Homo sapiens: one gene and its partner. The protein of the gene in region 1 interacts with the protein of each later gene in a biochemical or structural test. Each region holds a gene or a part of one and is shown on either strand. Other genes may lie near its edges.

Evidence for each region.
Region 2: the proteins of EEA1 (region 1) and RAB22A form a complex in vitro, tested with the Homo sapiens proteins (one study listed by BioGRID).

What each region holds. Positions count from the first base shown.
Region 1 is NC_000012.12:92,924,888-92,934,091, forward strand, and holds the start of EEA1 (early endosome antigen 1), read right to left. Parts: upstream 4,409-9,204; 5' UTR 4,180-4,408; coding exon 4,156-4,179; intron 1-4,155. UniProt on the Homo sapiens protein: Binds phospholipid vesicles containing phosphatidylinositol 3-phosphate and participates in endosomal trafficking.
Region 2 is NC_000020.11:58,346,417-58,355,532, forward strand, and holds part of RAB22A (ras-related protein Rab-22A), read left to right. Parts: intron 1-6,856; coding exon 6,857-6,928; intron 6,929-7,015; coding exon 7,016-7,122; intron 7,123-7,739; coding exon 7,740-7,849; intron 7,850-9,116. UniProt on the Homo sapiens protein: Plays a role in endocytosis and intracellular protein transport. Mediates trafficking of TF from early endosomes to recycling endosomes. Required for NGF-mediated endocytosis of NTRK1, and subsequent neurite outgrowth.

The DNA of each region.
Region 1 (9,204 bases):
CCATTAGCTGTCACTTTTTAAAATTCACTTCAATAAATTAGCAATACTTTCATCAAACTTAGATGGGCAACTAATCTGGGAAGCCTTCCCAACATCTAAAACCAGGGCCCTCTTGCTGGGTGTTCTTGGGGCATCCTGAGTTTGTCCTTCCTAGAACTCATTCAAGAGTATAGTTGTATGAATCTCTGAACAATTCCTCTCTCTTCCACTGGACGCTAAACTCCACAAAAAATTCATGACTACTTTACCCATCATTGTCTGCACAGCACACAGTTGGCCCACAAAAGATGTCTCAAAAAAAAAAAAAAAAACACTAATCACAGTTTTTTTGTTTTGTTTTGTTTTGTTTTTAACACAGGGTCTCACTCTGTTGCTGGAGTGCAGTGGCACGATCTTGGCTCACTGCAACCTCTGCCTCCCAGGTTCAAGCAATTCTCCCACCTCAGTCTCCCAAGTAGTTGGGACTACAGGCGTGCACCACGATGCCCGGCTAATTTTTGTATTTTTTGGTAGTGACGGGGTTTCACCACATTGACCAAGCTGGTCTCGAACTCCTGATCTCAGTGATCTGCACGCCTCGGCTTCCCAAAGTGATGGAATTACAGGCATGAGCCACTAAGCCAGCCCACAGTAAGTTATAATACTTAAGAAAGAAATGGCAACAAGGTTTACAAGCTGCCTAAGGTACTAAACGTTGATTAAATTTCTAACCATCAAGTACTTTAAATTCATGTTTTTCTTTGAAGGACTATTAAGTAAAATATTCAATACATACATATTGGAGCTACTTCACTTTGGTTTTGTTTTGAGGTTTTTTTGTTTTTGTTTTCCAGCTTCTTTCAAGCCTCAGAGAAACACCTTAGTAAGCTAATGAAAAAGGAGGAGCAGGAGGAGGGACAAAAGCAGGAGAACCAGAAACCAAATTTCCGTAAAGTATCCTGAGACTTATTGATGATGTTCAAACACTTTGAGTTCTAATTGATGGTAAGCAGTTTGTCTGTTTCTTCTTTTAAAAAATGCTATTTAAAGGAAACTATTCAGAAGAAAATAAGAATAGTTAAAATGAAAAGTTCATCTAAAAACAAAATGCTAAAGGAATGCCACATAATTTTTTTTTTTTTTTTAGACGGAGTTCCGGTCTTGTTGCTCAGGCTGGAGTGCAATGGAGCAATCTCAGCTCACTGCAATCTCCACCTCCCGGGTTCAAGTGATTCTCCTACCTCAGCCTCCTGAGTCGCTGGGATTATAGGCATGCACCACCACTCCCGGCTAATTTTGTATTTTTAGTAGAGTCAGGGTTTCTCCATGTTGGTCAGGCTGGTCTCGAACTCCCGACCTCAGGTGATCCGCCCGTCTCGGCCTCCCAAAGTGCTGGGATTACAGGAATGAGCCACTGCACCCAGCCAAGGAATGCCACATAATTTCAAAGCACAGAGTCCATTTCAAATAAATCTCTAAATTAACAATAGCTTTAATCTTATAGCTTAATATCTGTGCTGAGAAATAAGATTAGCAGGGAGGGGTAAAATAGGTTGCCATGTTACACAATTTAAAGATTCAAGTTATACTTGTTGGTAAATACCACTTGTAGAGTTAATAAAATATATATTCTACCTTCTAAACTAGTAAATCACCAGATTTAAGACATTTATCAAAATGTCCCTATTAAATACTCAGCATTAACACTGACCCAACTACAAGATAAAAGCTGAACTCCTTCAAAGGGACTCTTACGTCCTCTCACAATTTGGTCTCTAGCCACCACGGTAGCTTCATCTCTTACTAATTGCTACAGACCATCTCACTTCCTAAGCTTCATTGTTCACACTCCTCACAGTACTACCTGCGCCTTTTATGACTCCATCTCTTTGCATTTGCTGTTCCCTCTGCCTGACATGCCCTTCCCTCTTCTGAGCTGTGAATATGCCCCCGTCCCTGAAGCTTTTCCTAATTGCCCTCACCTCCCACAGAGTGCCTCCTGGGTCCTCTGTCCTCTTCATTATTCTATTACATAGCACTGTCATTACTTTTAAATGTTCACCTCCCAAACAGCCTGTGAGTTCTAAAGGGAGGACCCACAGCTTAATCAACTGTTTCCTACCCCTTAGCATGAAGCCTGGCATTTACTGAAACTCAATATAAATACACTGAATAAAAGAAAATTAAGTACTTAACTGTGAGAAACACTTCAAACTTTCCTACTAAAGAGTTAATGCATTTAACACAGTGATTCTCAACCAGAGGCAATTTTGCCCCTAGGGGACATTTGGTAAAATCTGGAGCTATTTTTGGTTGTCACAAGGGGGAAGGGATATAGGGGAATGCTACTGGCATCTAGTGGGGGTAGATGCCAGGGATGCTGCTAACATCTTACAAGGCACAGGGCAGCCTCCCACAACGCAGAATTATCCAGTCACAAATGCCAATAGCGCCGACGTTAAGAAACTCAGTTGTCAACTGACTTATTCAGAAGTGATGATTCAATATCACATCTCTGCAATAACCACAATCAATTTCACTTTTGTAGTTTCAACAGAAGCTTCTTTAACAGTTGATAGGTATGCACCAACATTAAAAATGATCTTCATATAATCTCGATGTTTAACTTTAAACCAAGATTACTAGAAAGCATCCCATATTTCTGAAAACCAATCTATAACTACAGCTGAGCTACCCTTAAACCAGTAAACACTTTTATTTGTAAACTTCAAAGCAAACCACAGGCAAACTAATTTTCACTTGCAGAACTATGACAGAAACACAATCTGAAACATGAGGTAATCAGTTCCTCCAGGTCTGATAAAAGAAAAATCTCCTAAAGCCTGAAAGTAAATCATGCACAGATGTCTTTACTGCTGAACTAAGGAAGTGATGGGGAAAGTAAAGGACATGCCCTTGTTACTGCCAAAATCATCGCTTACCGGGATTTCAAAATTCACAAAACACTGCAAAATACAATTAAATGTCAACACAGGTTGTCAGATAAAGAAGTTAACTATTTCTCCCTCTAATAACTGACCAAGTTTCACATGACTTCATTCTTTCAGGAGAAAGCTAGGCAGAAGCAAGAGCACTCCCTTCCTATCTACTGGATGACTCAACTCTCTTCCGCACATTCCTCGGCTGAATCCTACAAATTCACTAATTTCTTTTGTCCTTTGAACTAGTTATCCTACTCCCTCGGTAAAGAACTAATAGGCTCGGCACCTACTTTTCAATCATTTACATTTTGTTACACCCTATCAGCCTCAAAAAGAAAAGAAAAAAGCTATACCAAAAAAAAAAAACAAATTTAAGTTGACAGGTACAATAACTCTTACAGGAAAAGAGATGTGAATTATGTTATTCTAGTAACTGATTCTTAAATGATACACCTACAGTTTTCTAATGCTCTAATCTTTCTATCCTCAAGGTTTTCCAGATTTCAGAGACAGCACAGGCAGAAACTAAGTGTATATACCACTTGATCAAGCTTACTGCGGATTTATTCTTGGATAGCTAAAATAAGGTAGTGGGGCTTGCACAGAAAACATATTTTTAATTAAAAAAAAAGTTTCCAACAGTGAGTAACATCTTCCTTCTCGGCTGACTGTGCCAGTGTCAGTCCCACGCCTGGGCCCAGGCTAGGCCGGGGCTCACCACACCACCCTCCACTGTGGTCCAAAGGAGAAAGCAGGGCCGTGTGTGGCAGGTGCGCATCGTGTCAAATTGGGGGGCACGGGGAGTGCGGCGGGTGGGGAAAGGCGAAGCAAGCCGCCCGAATCTCCCATGGGGCGTTCTCCAGCCCGGCAGGCGGCGGCTGGCCCGTCCCACGGGCACCAACTCTCCATTTTCACTCCCACTCAGGGTTCCCGGGAGGAACGCGCCGGCACCACACCCTCCAGCTCGCAGCCCGCTCGCACACACGGAGCCCCGCGCCGGAGCGGGCGCCAGGCCTGGACGCGCGGGGCCACCAGGGCTCTGCCTGCCGCCCCGCCGCGCCGGCCCCACCCGCCCTCCCCGCCCCCGGGCCGGGCGACCGAGGCCTAAGCGCCTGCCGGGCTGTGGGGCCTAGGGAAGGAAGGAGCCCGCGCTGAGGAGGGGCGCCCGCGCCGCGGCCCCGAGCTCCGGCTGTCCCGCTCACGTGCTGCCAGAAAGACGGTTTCACTCTCTTACCCTCTGTAAAATCCTCCTTAACATGGTTTAACCACCACCCGGCGCCGCCGCGGTGACTCTCCAGACCCTGCGCGGGGCCACTCACTACTCGGGGTGCGCGGGCGGGAGGGACTGGGCCGGGAGGGGACCGGGAAGGAGGTCGGGGCGAGGCGGTGGCGACGGCCGCTCGGGCGGCCCCGACTTCCCCACAGGCGGCGAGAGGGAGCACGCGAGAGAGAGCGAGCGAACGACTAGGCAGCCTGCGAGCGCCTCCAGCCCGCCCGCCGGGCAGCCCCCGTAACTGACAGATGGGCGGGCCCGCCCGCGGCCGCCGGGGGGCGGGGCGGTGGCGGGCCCGCCCCTCGCCTGTCCATTCGCGGGAGGCGGGGCTGAAGGGGGCCGGTCCAGGCCAGCGACCAATCGGAAGCGGTGGCAACGTGGGCGGCTGCGTGACAGACAGGCGGCAGGACGCTGTCGCCGCAGCTTCTTCCGGCTAGCTGGGGGACGCCGAGGCTGCGGAGTGCACGCCTGGGCTCCGTCAGAGGGCCGCGCCCGCGCGACGACCGCGTGCCCGCTAGTGGGAGGCGGGCGAGGACCCCTGGGGGTGTCCCTCCCTGACCCAGGCGGGAGGAGGGGACGCCTTAGGCTGTTTTGTAAAATGTGTCGGTGTGACCCTTCCGGCGATGGCTCCTGACTCGACGTGGTATTGAGCCTGAGCTATATGCTAGTTTCTGCTGGAAACGCTGACTCTGCCTCTTAGCCCCTGGGTTGAAGCCGACTAGAGAATCTCAGACGTGCTTAACCGGTCTGTTGGGCTTCCCTGCCCTTTTCCAGTCCCAGGTTTCCTTTCCCTGCTCCCTTCCTGCTTCTAATTTCAGCCAAAGAGAAAGCAAAGATTTAGAAAAGAAGGGTAGGAAGAAGCTGGAATTTGAATTGGCAAGAGAAGTTTGAGGTTGTCTTTTCTAGATCAAAACAATTTTTAATAGGCTGATGTTCACATGTTGCACTTTCTAAAGCCCGTGCTTGACCTCCTAAGGAATTTTAAGTCCTATTCTGATAATCGATTTATGAAGTAAATTGTCATTAACGCCTCTGTTTTATAGATTAAGAAGAAAATGAGGTCACAGATAAATATCGTGCCAAAACGACGTGGTCTTTGAACTGACCTCCAGGCACGATGTCATTATTTAACTCGAGAAATCACAGCTTCTGCGTCCTACCATTCTGCCAATATTCACAGCCAAGAGGCTCAACTTAACACCCTGGTAGAAAAAGAGAAGCCTTTAATATTGCTTGAATAGGGAAGGAGAGGGAATAATGGAACTAACCTTGCTGGGAGGGAAAAAAAAAAAAAAAGAAAAAACCAACAGACCACTGAATGAAGCCTATGAAGCAATGAATGGAGTGCTTTTTGGAAAGCACTTCCAGATCTTTTGAAAAGCAGCACAAAATTAAATATTATTTGCAAATCAGTTAATGAATAGGAAAATGTTTTGTAAAGTATAATGCATTATATAATGTAATATGATATTTCTATCCCAAATATATTTGGTTTTTTATTATGTGTGTGTGTGTCTCTCGATGGTGCAGCAGCACGGTCATGCCTACAGCTAATATATGAGTAATCACTAGTGATAATGCACTTACAAAGAACATACTTTTCCATCTTTCTAAACATGAGGTGCTTTATTTTCAGACAATATGGGAAACATTCTCAGCGACATGGGGTGATAAAAGTGACTTTTTTTCTCTTTTTTGTTTGTTTTTCAAAAATTAGTTTAGGGTCAGGCACACTGATTTTATGCCTGTAATCCCAGCACTTCGGGAGACGGAAGCAGACAGATTGCTTGAGCTCAGGAGTTTCAGACCAACCTGGACAACATGGCAACAACTCGTCTAAAAAAATATTAGCTGGGTGTGGTGGCATGCGCCTGTGTTCCTAGCTACTCAGGAGGCTGAGGTGAGAGGATCACCTGAGCCCAGGGAGGTTGAGAATGCAGTGAGCTATGATCTCACCACTGTACTCCATCCTGGGTGACAAAATGAGACCCTGTCTTTAAAAAAAAAAAAAAAAGTTTAAAACTGCTTATTAATGTTACATGCTAAGACCTTCTTTACTGGAATTCTCATGTAGAATCCTTTGAATAATATAATAGGCTCTCATCTACAGCTGAGCTAGATGGATTATTGGAAAATCTGTGTACTCCCCTGCACAGTTCATGATAACTCCATCACTGGGATAATACACTGGAGAACTTAATTACTCCAAAAGAAAATAAGCAGTGGGTGAGAGCTAACCATGTAAGAATACCCTTCACTAATCTAGCAGCTTCCTATACATAGCAGTTCTGCTTACCCTGTCTGACCACTAATTCCCATCCGTTCAGCTCTTGTGCATTAATATTCCCCCACCATCTATTTACTTTGATCCCCAGCAAGACCTCAAATCCATTGGCCCTTCTTACTTTCTTAATATCAGTCATTTCCCTAGCCTACTCGTTTCCATCAAAACCCAACCTAAAGCCCATGGTCCAACTTTACAATCTTCCCTTTGCAAATATGCTTAACTTCTTCACCTTTCTTTTTTTTTTTTTTTTTTTTTTTTTTTTTAGATGTAGTCTGTCGCCCAGGCTGGAGTGCAGTGTGCAATCTCACTGCAATCTGTGCCTCCTGGGTTCAAGCAATTCTCCTGCCTCAGCCTCCCAAGTAGCTGGGACTACAGGCACCCACCACCATGCCCAGCTAATTTTTTGTATTTTAGTGGAGATGGGGTTTCACCATGTTGCCCAGGCTGGTCTCAAACTCCTGAGCTCGGGTAATCCACCCACCTCTGCCTCCCAAAATGCTAGGATTACAAACATGAGACACCATACCCGGCCACTTCTTCACCTTTCTCTTCCTCCATTGCTTTTGTCTAGCAGAGGCCAAACCCTGGTTAAGTTCAATTAACCACCTACTCTCTGCTGCACAGGATCCATAGGAATAGAAGGCTGGGCACAGTGGCTCACACCTGTAATCCCAGCACTTTGGGAGGTGAGGGGCGTGGATCACCTGAGGTCAGGAGTTCAAGACCAGTCTGGTGAACATGGTGAAACCCTGTCTCTACTGAAAATACAAAAATTAGCCGGACGTGGTGGCGCACGTCTGTAGTCCCAGCTACTGGGGAGGCTGAGGCACGAGAATCACTTGAAGGCAGGAGGTGGATGGAGGTTGCAGTGAGCTGAGATCACGCCATTGCACTCCAGCCTGGGCAACAGAGTGAGACTTCATCTAATACGTATATATATATGAATAGGAAAGTGTCTAAATATCACTAGAGATACACATATATAACTGGGGTTGTTGGGCTCATTCTGCATTAATAACCACAGATCTCAGGCATATGTCTCCACAACAAGAATATCAATTTTCTGAGCACAAGGATCTTGTCCCCCATTCAGTGCTGTGACCCCAAAACTAAAACATTGCTCAATTCATGGTAAGCACTAAATAAATATTTGTTGAACGAATGAAGGAAGGATTGAAGGAATGAAAGGTATGTAATTACTCCTTTAACAGTTGCCCAGCAGCATTCCTGTTACACTTTATTTCTGTCTTCTTTCTCAAGATCTTCAAGATGGCCTACACATCTATAGTTGCTGCACTTTCTTACTGTATATTTTCTTCTCGACCCATTCCAATCAAGCCTCTGTAGCCTGTGTCCCACTGACTCCAATAAGGCTGTTCTTATGATCACTAATGACCTGCATGTTTCCTATTCCAGTGACTACTTTGTTGTTTCGACTTCGACTGTTTCCTATATAGAAAACAGTTGGCCACTCTCTCCTTGAGTTACTTTATTCTCTTGGCTTCCTTGACACTATACTTTCTGGTTTTTCTCCTCATTGCCCATTCCCTCTATGTCTGATGGCTTCTCTACTGCGTATCTTAATGTTGGAGTGCCCCTACTCTGTTCTGGGGCCCTTGCTTTTATCTGTCATACTCAGCCTAGAAGTAATCTCAACTAGTCCCCTGACTTTTAATTTCATTTATCAGGCCAGCTACGGTGGCTCACACCTGTAATCCCAGCACTTTGGGAGGCCGAGGTGGGTGGATCACGAGGTCAGGAGTTCAAAACCAGCTTAGCCAACATGGTGAAACCCTGTCTGTACTCAAAATACAAAAATTAGCCCGGCATGGTGGTGCACATCTGTAATCCCAGCTACTGGGGAAGCTGAGGCAGGAGAATGGCTTGACCCCAGGAGACGGAGATTGTGGTGAGCCGAGATCGTGCCACTGCACACCAGCCTGGGCAATAGAGCGAGATTCCATCTCAAAAAAAAAAAAAAATCATCTACTTCATATTTCTTCTTGGATGTCTAGTGAGCATATCAAACGTAACATGGCCCAAACAAAACTGTTTCATTTTTATCCTCAAAACATCGTCACCAGTTTTCCTGTCTCCATATGTATCACTACAAGATACTTAGTTGATTCAAACCAAAAATCTCTTTATCTCACCACTTCTCCTCCTTCCAGCGAATCCATCAGGATATCCTGACAAATCCACCTCCAAAATATATCCCAAATCTGACACTTCTTGCCACTTTCACCCTAGTTTATAGCCCCTTCATCTCCTGTCAAGACTACTAGAATAGTCTTCTAGTTGGTCTCCCGCCTTTTACTTTGGCTTCTCTGTAATCCATTCATTACACAGAAGCCAGGGACGACTTTTTAAAATGCAAATCAAAAATGTCACTGCCCTCCTAGATTGTAGCTTCCATTATCATCACAATGAAATCCAAATACCTTATCCTGGCTTACACGCCCTGCTGATCTGGGCCTGCCTGCTTCTCTGCTTTCCACTTAGAATATCCTCCCCTTGACCCACTATGCCCCAGCTGCTCTGGACTTTTCTCAGTTGCACAAAACCTGTTCCTGCCTGTACACCAACCAGTTCCTATTTAGGGAATGCTTTCTCCTGAAATCTCATAGTTAATTTTGTGTCATTCAGATTATTCCCTTAAGGTCACCTCCTTAGAGAGGCCTTCAAGGACCACCTCATCCAAAGTGCTTCGAATCTCTGGTCAC
Region 2 (9,116 bases), on another chromosome or scaffold:
CTCCAGCACTCCTTGGCCTCATGCCTCTGGATACGCTGTTCCTTCTCACCAAAACTCTCTGTTCCCTCCACTGGAGCCCAGCTGGCTCCTTTCCCGTCTTTTAGTGTCAGGTTAAATGTGATGCACTCAGAGTTTTCTCTAAACCCCCTGCATCTAAGCAGGGCCCCAACTTTGTTCTTCATTACTGCCCTTACTCATTTTCCTCAGAACATTCATTAAAAATTGTCCTTAGATACCTGTCTACCTACCTTCATTGACAGAATCTCCCATCAGACTGTAACTCCAAGAGCTGGGACCACAGTGTCTTGTTCACTGCTGTACTCCCAGGGCCTAGCATGGTGCCTGACCTAGAGCTGATGTTCAGATATTGGTTGGTTGGATGAATCAGCAAATAAACTCTTTGGAGTATTCCTTTGTATCCTGAAGTCTTTGATTGCTGTCATCCATGGGATTGTCACCTGTTTCCTTACCTGTCTGCCTTTCATTAGACTGTAAGCTCCTTGAGGGCAAGGACTGCCTTCATATCTCTGCTCTCAGCCCCTTGGCACATGGTATTGATGCCCATAGGTTTATGTCTACTGATTGCCAGCCCTACTTAGGCACAGATAAGGACAGCTCCTCTACCTACTTTTACCATGTGAGTAGTGCATGACTCAAATTATAAATTTCTGTTGTTGTATGTTTATTACTCTTTGTAGTTATGACATTTATTATGGAACCAAAATTGTCGTAAAATGAAAACCCTTTTGATGAATTGACCATTCAGACATCCTCCCCAACCTCCCCATTTGACATCTTGTACTGCACATAGTTTTGACAGATGGATTGTCTTTCTGATGGTCCAGCTACGTTTGATTGCAAAGTGATTTCATTAAGTCAATGAAAGTGATTTTGGAGAATTTCTCAAATGTCCTGTGAAGCCCTTGACAGTAGGGATCTTGTTAACTTAAATGAAGAGGAAAAATACTGCTCAGGATGATGATATAAGTGCTTCAGAAGATAATGGTTTGTGTATCAAAGGGTTAAGAGGGGCCTAGGGAAAATTGATGAAGCCCTCAAATATTTTTGTAAAAATTTGTCATTTTTATGATAAGACTATGAAAGTCAAACATGAAATGAAGGATATCGTATTGTGCTAGTATGTAGTTTTATCAGAAAATTCATAGCCAAGTTATCAATCAAGTTCGACTCAGTGTTCATCCAGAAAATTAGCTCCTGGCTGCAATAATAAACCTAAGGTTTTTCAAATACCAGATAAAATTAAACTTGATTTTACAATTTTAAGTTTATCTTCTCAAGATAGAGTCTTTGTGAGACCATTTTGTCCCTATTATTTGCTATCTTGAATGAATGCATTTAAAATCACCCTTTTTCCACCAATTATCTCCTTCAGTAACAAAGACTCCTGCAGTAGCATTGAGACAGACACAACACATATATTAAAAAACCTCATAAATACACCATACCTGTAGTAAGAGCATGTCAAATACTTGCCATCTGTGTGTGATTGTATAAAAGAAAGCTTCTTGGCCAGGCATAGTGGCTCACGCCTGTAATCCCAGCACTTTGGGAGGCCAAGGCAGGCGGATCACCTGAGGTCAGGAGTTCTAGATCAGCCTGGCCAACATGGTGAAACCCCATCTCTACTAAAAATACAAAAATTAGCCAGGCATGGTGGCGCACACCTGTGGTCCCAGCTACTCGGAAGGCTGAGGCAGGAGAATCACTTGATCCCGGGAGGTGGAGGTTGCAGTGAGCCGAGATCGCACCACTGCACTCCAGCCTGGGCCATGGAGTGAGACTCCATCTCAAAAAAAAAAAGCTTCCTAACCAGAGTCTAATAGACATTGCATCCAGTCTTTAAAAATGTACATTCCTGCATCTTAATATGGTTTCTCCCAATGACTGTTTTTACAGAGATCAGAACACTAGGAAGCCTCAGACTTATTTATTGTCACAGTAGTCATGTAAGGAATTGTTCTCCTGTTTAAAATCAAGAACAAGTGTAGTGGCTTAGTATCATCTAGAATTGGGGCAGACAGTCCCAGAAACCAGAGTCTGCAGTGCATCATCCACACTGGCCAGTGCACAGTTACCATCCACATGAAGAGACAAGAAGACCTGACTCCATGAGTAGAAGCAAACCCGAAAGTGATCCCATTATTAGAATTTGCAGACAGAATTTACACATATATTTTTGGGCCACATCCAACCTGCCACCAGTTTTTGTAAATAAAGCTTTCATGGAACATAGCCATGCTTGTTTGTTTATTATCTATGGCAGGGACGTCCAGTCTTTTGGCTTCCCTGGGCCACATTGGAAGAAGAATTGTCTCAGGCTGCATATAAAATACACCAACGATAGCTGATGAGCTTAAAAAAAAAAAATCGCAAAAACAGCTCAGTGTTTTAAGAAAGTTTATGGATTTGTGTTGGGCCACATTCAAAGCTGTCCTGGGCCACATAACAGGCCGCAGGTTAGACAAGCTTGGTCTGTGGCTACCTTCACTCTACAATAGTAGAGTTGAGTAGTTGCAGCAGAGATTATGTGACCCATAAAGCCAAAATATTCACTACCTGGTCTTTACCAGAAAAAGTTTGCCGTCACCTGATCTAGAGCCAGGTTTGGAGCAGAGATGTGCTGACAGCTTTTGAGTCTCTTACATGCCTCCACCTTCTTTCTTTGCATCAAAAGGACATGAAAGTTTCCATGTCAGTAATAGCGAGTGGCTTGCCCTCCCACAGCTAAAAATTATATATAAACTCCAGACAAAGCTTTAAAAAAACAACTGTTTGAAGGCACTGCAGAGCAACCAAATGCAGTCAGGGACTGCAAAGGGGAGCTTTCTTGTGTAAGATCCACATTTTTACAGCTTTTCCCCAGTGGGTATTTCCCAGTTCGAGTGGCACAGGGTAGCTAGTACTTAAGCAGAAAGCTTGTGTTGAGTGCAGAGTTTAGGACTGCTAGAGCAGCCAGAAAAAGAGGAGGCAAATCGCAGAAAAGGGATTCAACAAGGAGGGACCCCCTAAAATCTGTTTATAAATTCCCTGAAGTTTTTTTGACCCCCAAATTGTGAATTCACAAGAGAGACATTATAAAATGCAACAGAAACCAGTAGCTGGCAAGGGTGACAAGACAGCAGAGATTTCAGCTGCTCCTCATTACAGCAGGGCTAGACTTCAAAGTTTGAATCCAATCCTGCTGTGTTACAGGGGATCACTAAACACCTTGGGCATTCCGATGAAACTTCAGAAGAGCCATGCCTTGGGAGTAGAAACCGTGTCCTAGGACTAAGGGCAAATCCAAAAACCCAAGTAGACCAACCAATCTCAGGATGAGTCACCAGTAACTTAATACTCTTCAGAGAAGAAAAAAACCAAGCGTCTACAGTGCATCATCCACACTGTCCAGTGGACAGTCAGCACTACTACACATATGAAGAAACAGGAAGGTGTGACCCAGTGAGTAGAAGCAAACCCTAAAGTGACCCTTTTCTTGGAATTTGCAGACACAGAATTTAAAGCACATATTTTACATATGTTCAGAGATTTAAAGAAAACTAGGCCAGGCACAGTGGCTCATGCCTTTAATCCCAGCACTTTGGAAGGCCGAGACAGGCATATTGCTTGAGTCGAGGAGTTCCAAACCAGCATGGACAACATGGCAAAAGCCCATCTCTTAAGGGAAAAAAAAAAGGAGTGTTAATGACTTAACTGCAAATGGGGAATCTCACATAGAATGGAAACTAATAAAGAATCACATGAAAATGCTAAAACTGAAAGCTGCAATATCTAAGATGAAAAACTCACTGGAGGGTGATAGAACACATTAATCAGAAGAATAGAAAAACAGTAGAAAAATATGGACAGAGTCTCAGTATCATAGGGACAAATTCAAACAGTCTAACGTATGTGTAATTGGAGAGCCAGGAGGAGCAAAGAGAGAGATGGAAACAGAAAAAAAGATTTCAAGAAATAATGGCTGAAAATTTCCCGAATTTAGTGAAACATAACTCACAAATCCAAGAAGTTCAACAAATCTGTAAGTTCAAAGAACACCATATCTAGGTAAGTCGTAGTCAAACTGCTGAAAACCAAAGGTAAAGAGAAAATCTTGAATGCACCCAGAAGTAAAAGACACGTAAACAGGAGAACAACAATATGAATGATGGCTAACTTTACACATAAACGCCGGAGACCAGAAGCCAGAGGAACAGGATCTTTAAAGTGTGGAAAGCAAAAACCTATCAGTTTGCCAAAATTAGTTTTCAAATATAAAGTCAAAGTAAGAACATTTTTAGAAAAACAAAAACAGAAATCAACAGCAGCTGTCCCAGAAGGTTTTTCACACTAAAGGAAAATGACACCACATGGTAATTCAGATCCATAGGAAGAAATAATAGCCACTAGAAATGGCAAATAGAAACGTATGTTTTTTCTTCTTCAATTATTCAAAAGTTAACTAATTCAAAAATTATAACACTGGATTGTATAGTTTATAGCATATATAGATTTAGATTATTTGACAGTGGTAGTACAAAGAATGGTAGGATAACAAGAAATTAGACTTTTGCAAGTCTCTGATATTTTACATGAAGTGGTGCATTTTAAACTAAGTAGACTGTAGAAAAACGTGCAGTAGTCCAGACACAGGGGCTCACACCTGTAATCCCAGCACTTTGAAAGGCCACGACAGGTAGATTTGAGGCCAGGAGTTCAAGATCAGCCTGTCCAACATGGCAAAACCCCATATCTACTAAAAATACAAAAGTTAGCCGGGCATGGTGGCACTTACTGTAATCCCAGCTACTTGGGAGACTGAGGCACAAGAATTGCTTGAACCCGGCAGGCAGAGCTTGCAGTGAGCCAAGAACACACCACTGCACTCCAGCCTGGGTGACAGAGCGAGACTCTGTCTCAAAAAAAAAAAAGAAAAATGTGCAGTATATATTATAGTTACAAAAGCAACAACTTAAAAAATAATACAAGCAAGTACAGTTCAAAAGTCAGTAGAGAAGTTAATATACTAAAATTGAACACTAAGAAAAATTCAAGCAATGCAAAAGAGGAAAAGAACGGAGGAGCAGGAATTTTAAAAGAAATGGAACAGATACAGGCCGGGCATGGTGGCTCACGCCTGTAATCCCAGCACTTTGGGAGGCCGAGGCAGGTGGATCACCTGAAGTCGGGATTTCAAGACCAGACTGACCAACATGGAGAAACCCCATCTCTACTAAAAATACAAAATTAGCCGGGCGTGGTAGCGCATGCCTGTAATCCCAACTGCTAGGGAGGCTGAGGCAGGAGAATGGCTTGAACCCGGGAGGCGGAGGCTGCGGTGAGCCGAGATCACGCCATTGCACTCCAGCCTAGACAACAAGAGCGAAACTCCGTCTCAATGGTAGACCTAAATCCAAATATATTAGTAAATACATTAAATATAAAGGAGCTGAACTGCTGAACCTTCCACTTAAAAGGCAAAGGTTGTCAAAAATCAGGACCCAACTATGTGCTGGTTATAAGAGGACTACTATAAATATAAAAACAAATAAAGAATGCAAAAGGATGTAGTATTCAAATAATAAACAAAAGAGACCCATGTGGTTATATAATATCAGTAAAACAGACATGAAAACAAGGTGGAAGAAGGACATTGTGAGAAGAATATTGAGGAACTTTGTGTTGATAGAACTGTTTGACATCTTAGTGGATGATATTCACACAGATATATACATTTGTCAGTTTATCAAATTAAAATTTAATTTGATAAATTTTAAATTTATCGTAAAACTCAAATTAATACGAAATTTTAAAAGCCAAAAGGTTAAACTCATTGGATAAGCAGTTCCAGAATCCATAGTTCTGTATGTGGTTTATGTATGTGCACCAAATGCTCCCCTGTGATAATCCCTGCCTGTGTTCAGGGGTAAACCACCATTAACAACAGGATGTAAATACAGTGTCATCAGATCATAAGTAGGGGTCAGGCTTCAGAGTCAGGGTGCAAGACGAAAATTAAGTATAGGCAAAATTCTTGTCATTAAACATTGACATCATATCCAGTTGGTGAGATGCTCACATAGGACGTGTGCCCAAGAACTGAGATTGACTGGGCAAAGAGCTTCACAGTCTCCATCTCACACTCATTGAGAGAAATAGCTCACTGAATCACCCTTGCTGTTCAAATGGTTATTCCTCTCCCTTCTCTTTCCTCCCTGTTGTGTGTCACCGGTTGTGGAGGCCAGGGTGACCAGGGTGATGAGTGGGAAGAAGCTGTGTATTCAGGGTTAAATTGATGTAAATGAAATGAGATCTGTACCCAGCATTTGAGAATTGCCACATGCAAGGAGATATCAAAAAAGCAAGTTGCAAACTCATCCAAGTAGTGAATGTAGATGTGTACTCATTTCTGAAGGACAATCAGTGTTCAGATTACAGGGTTTTCTTTATGACACCCAAATGCAGCTACTTCTCTGGAGAACTATTTATAGCATTATTTTTATCTCCCCTGATAGTTAGGGAAGCCAAAGTTTAAAGGACTATTGAACAAATGAATTTGGGAATTATAACATTGAGTTCAATTAAAAAGCCTTTTTAGCTGAAACAATTGTTTATAGCGCCATATTTAATTCCTATAAAACTGTATTCTGAACTATCTTCTGAGAGACATTTCAGTGTTACATTAAAAGTTTTTGCCTTTGGTAATTACTGGTTCATTTGCTTTAAAGCAGCATGTCATTTTCTTGGCTTAAGAGAAAGATTACTTTTTGTGCAGGGATAATGGGCTTATAAATCTAGTATAAAACATATTTAACCAGTTTTCCCAATTTTGTTTATTTTTCCCCCTCCTCTGCAGTTTCGTGCCTTAGCACCAATGTACTATCGAGGGTCGGCTGCAGCTATAATCGTTTATGATATCACAAAAGAAGTAAGACTATATAGTTTTCTTTAGATTGTTTTGAAAACTCTTTTGGTTGCTTAGATCTCCAGTTGCTCTCTTTTTTGTGTGTTACAGGAGACATTTTCAACATTAAAGAATTGGGTGAAAGAGCTTCGACAGCATGGCCCACCTAATATTGTAGTTGCCATTGCAGGAAATAAATGTGATCTTATCGATGTAAGGTAAGTTATTAGAACGAGAGATTACAATACCTATTATGTGTTCCTTTTCTTAATAAGCAATATCCAGTTTAAGAATCTTGCTTTTATTTTATCTCTGACATTGAAAAATTCCTTTTGGTTGTGTGGTTGGAGTCCTAAATTTTTAAACTAAAATTAAGATTTCAGGCATTTGGAGCTAATTATATTATGTATACAGACAGGTGTGCAATTTACGGAAATACTGGTTGCGTTGCATCCAACATTATCTGAGATCAGAGCAGCCCCCAGGCTCCCATGACTTAGAATACTTGAATGCAGAAAGCACATTTATTGGCAGTTTCCCTGGGCCACTTCCATCATTCCCAAAGCAAGGGCTTTTTGAAAATTTTGGCTGGGGAAGAAAACCCTGCCATCCCTAATCATTCCATTAGCTACATTACTAGTGGTACCGAGTTTTGTTTCACTTTGTTTGTTTACCCATGGATGTGGTGTAATCGAGAAGACCATGTCTCAGGGCCCATCCAGCAGCCATTTAGTCCATCCTTTGTCATCATAAATCTGGTTAACTACTGGGTAGGTGGGGGTACAACTAAGATCTTCATGGGTAGAATTTCTGATATGTAGTTGTTGCCTTCCAGAGAAGTCATGGAGAGAGATGCAAAGGACTACGCCGACTCTATTCATGCAATTTTTGTAGAGACCAGCGCAAAAAACGCGATAAACATAAATGAACTCTTTATAGAAATTAGTGAGTATCTCTGTGCCTTATCCATTTCCTCTGTAAAAGCCGCTTAACACAGAATGATCTTCCTGGTTAGAATTCCTGTCTTACTTAGAGCAGTCTAGTCTCTGATATTGTGATCAGTGAAATGAAGTTGGAGAAGGTAAGAGTAATGTCCAGTTTTCATATCATGTTATAGTTGCTGAAGAGCTGCCGCCCTTCTGGAAAGAGTGTTGCTACTGAATAAATAATGCACAGGGTACTGAGGTCATGAAAGCTGTCCCATTTCTTTCTCTATTTAAATATGTTTCTGTTAGTCGTCCAAGGTCATTGAAAATGAACAAAATGAATAAAGGGAAATGAAATGCAGGTATACTTGCACGGTAAGAAAACCCTCAAAAATAATACTAGGCAAGTGAAAGGTAAGACCTGTTTTCCCTTCTCTTTCCCTTCCCTTTCCAGAAGTGTTAATATGATGATACTCGATGGGAGAGGGGCTGCTGCATGCCTTTGGGATCCTCTGCAGATCGTATCTATGTTTATTCATTTCATTCAAATTCATCAAAATATTTATTGGGAGCTGTTCCAGGCTCAGGGGAAATAGCCGTGAAGAAGATAGACGCAGCCCCTGCTCTCCTGGAGCGCACATTCTACAGAGGGAAACAGACAGTGAACACCAAATAAATAGGATCATTTCAGATCATAATAACTGATACAAAGAAAATAATTTAGGATGAAATGAAGGAATGTCTGCAAGCAATTGGGGAAGGTCTCCCTAAGGAGGTGCTATCAGAGCTGAGGTCCAAAGAAGCAGGCCCTGTAGAGGTGTGGGGAGTCACATAAACATGTCAGACTTCCAGGTGGAGAAAAGCAGAAAGCCGTCAGAGCAGGGTGGATGTAGCGTTAAGATCCACCATGTGGTTGAGAGCCAAGGGTACTGAAGCAGGGAGGGTCCTTTGCCATTGTGTCGAGGAGGGGCATGAACTCCAGAGCCCACCAAGGCCAGGCAAGGTTGACCCATGAGCAGAGCAGGCCCAGGTGAAGCCTTGGGAACCCCAGCTCAGGCCAGGCCCAGCTCCATCAGCTGGGGCCACACTGGAATGTGGGCCCCTGGTTGCTGAGGTTGTTTTCACATTTTTTTTTTACATGTCCCATTGTTTAGATTTGGCCAATCATTTAAGTATTTTCAGAGTACTTTGCAGGCCTAAGGAGCCCATCTGCTGCCAGATATGGCCAGTGAACTACTGATTGCACCCTCTAGGCCAGCCCGTTCATTTCAGTGTTAAAACGTCAT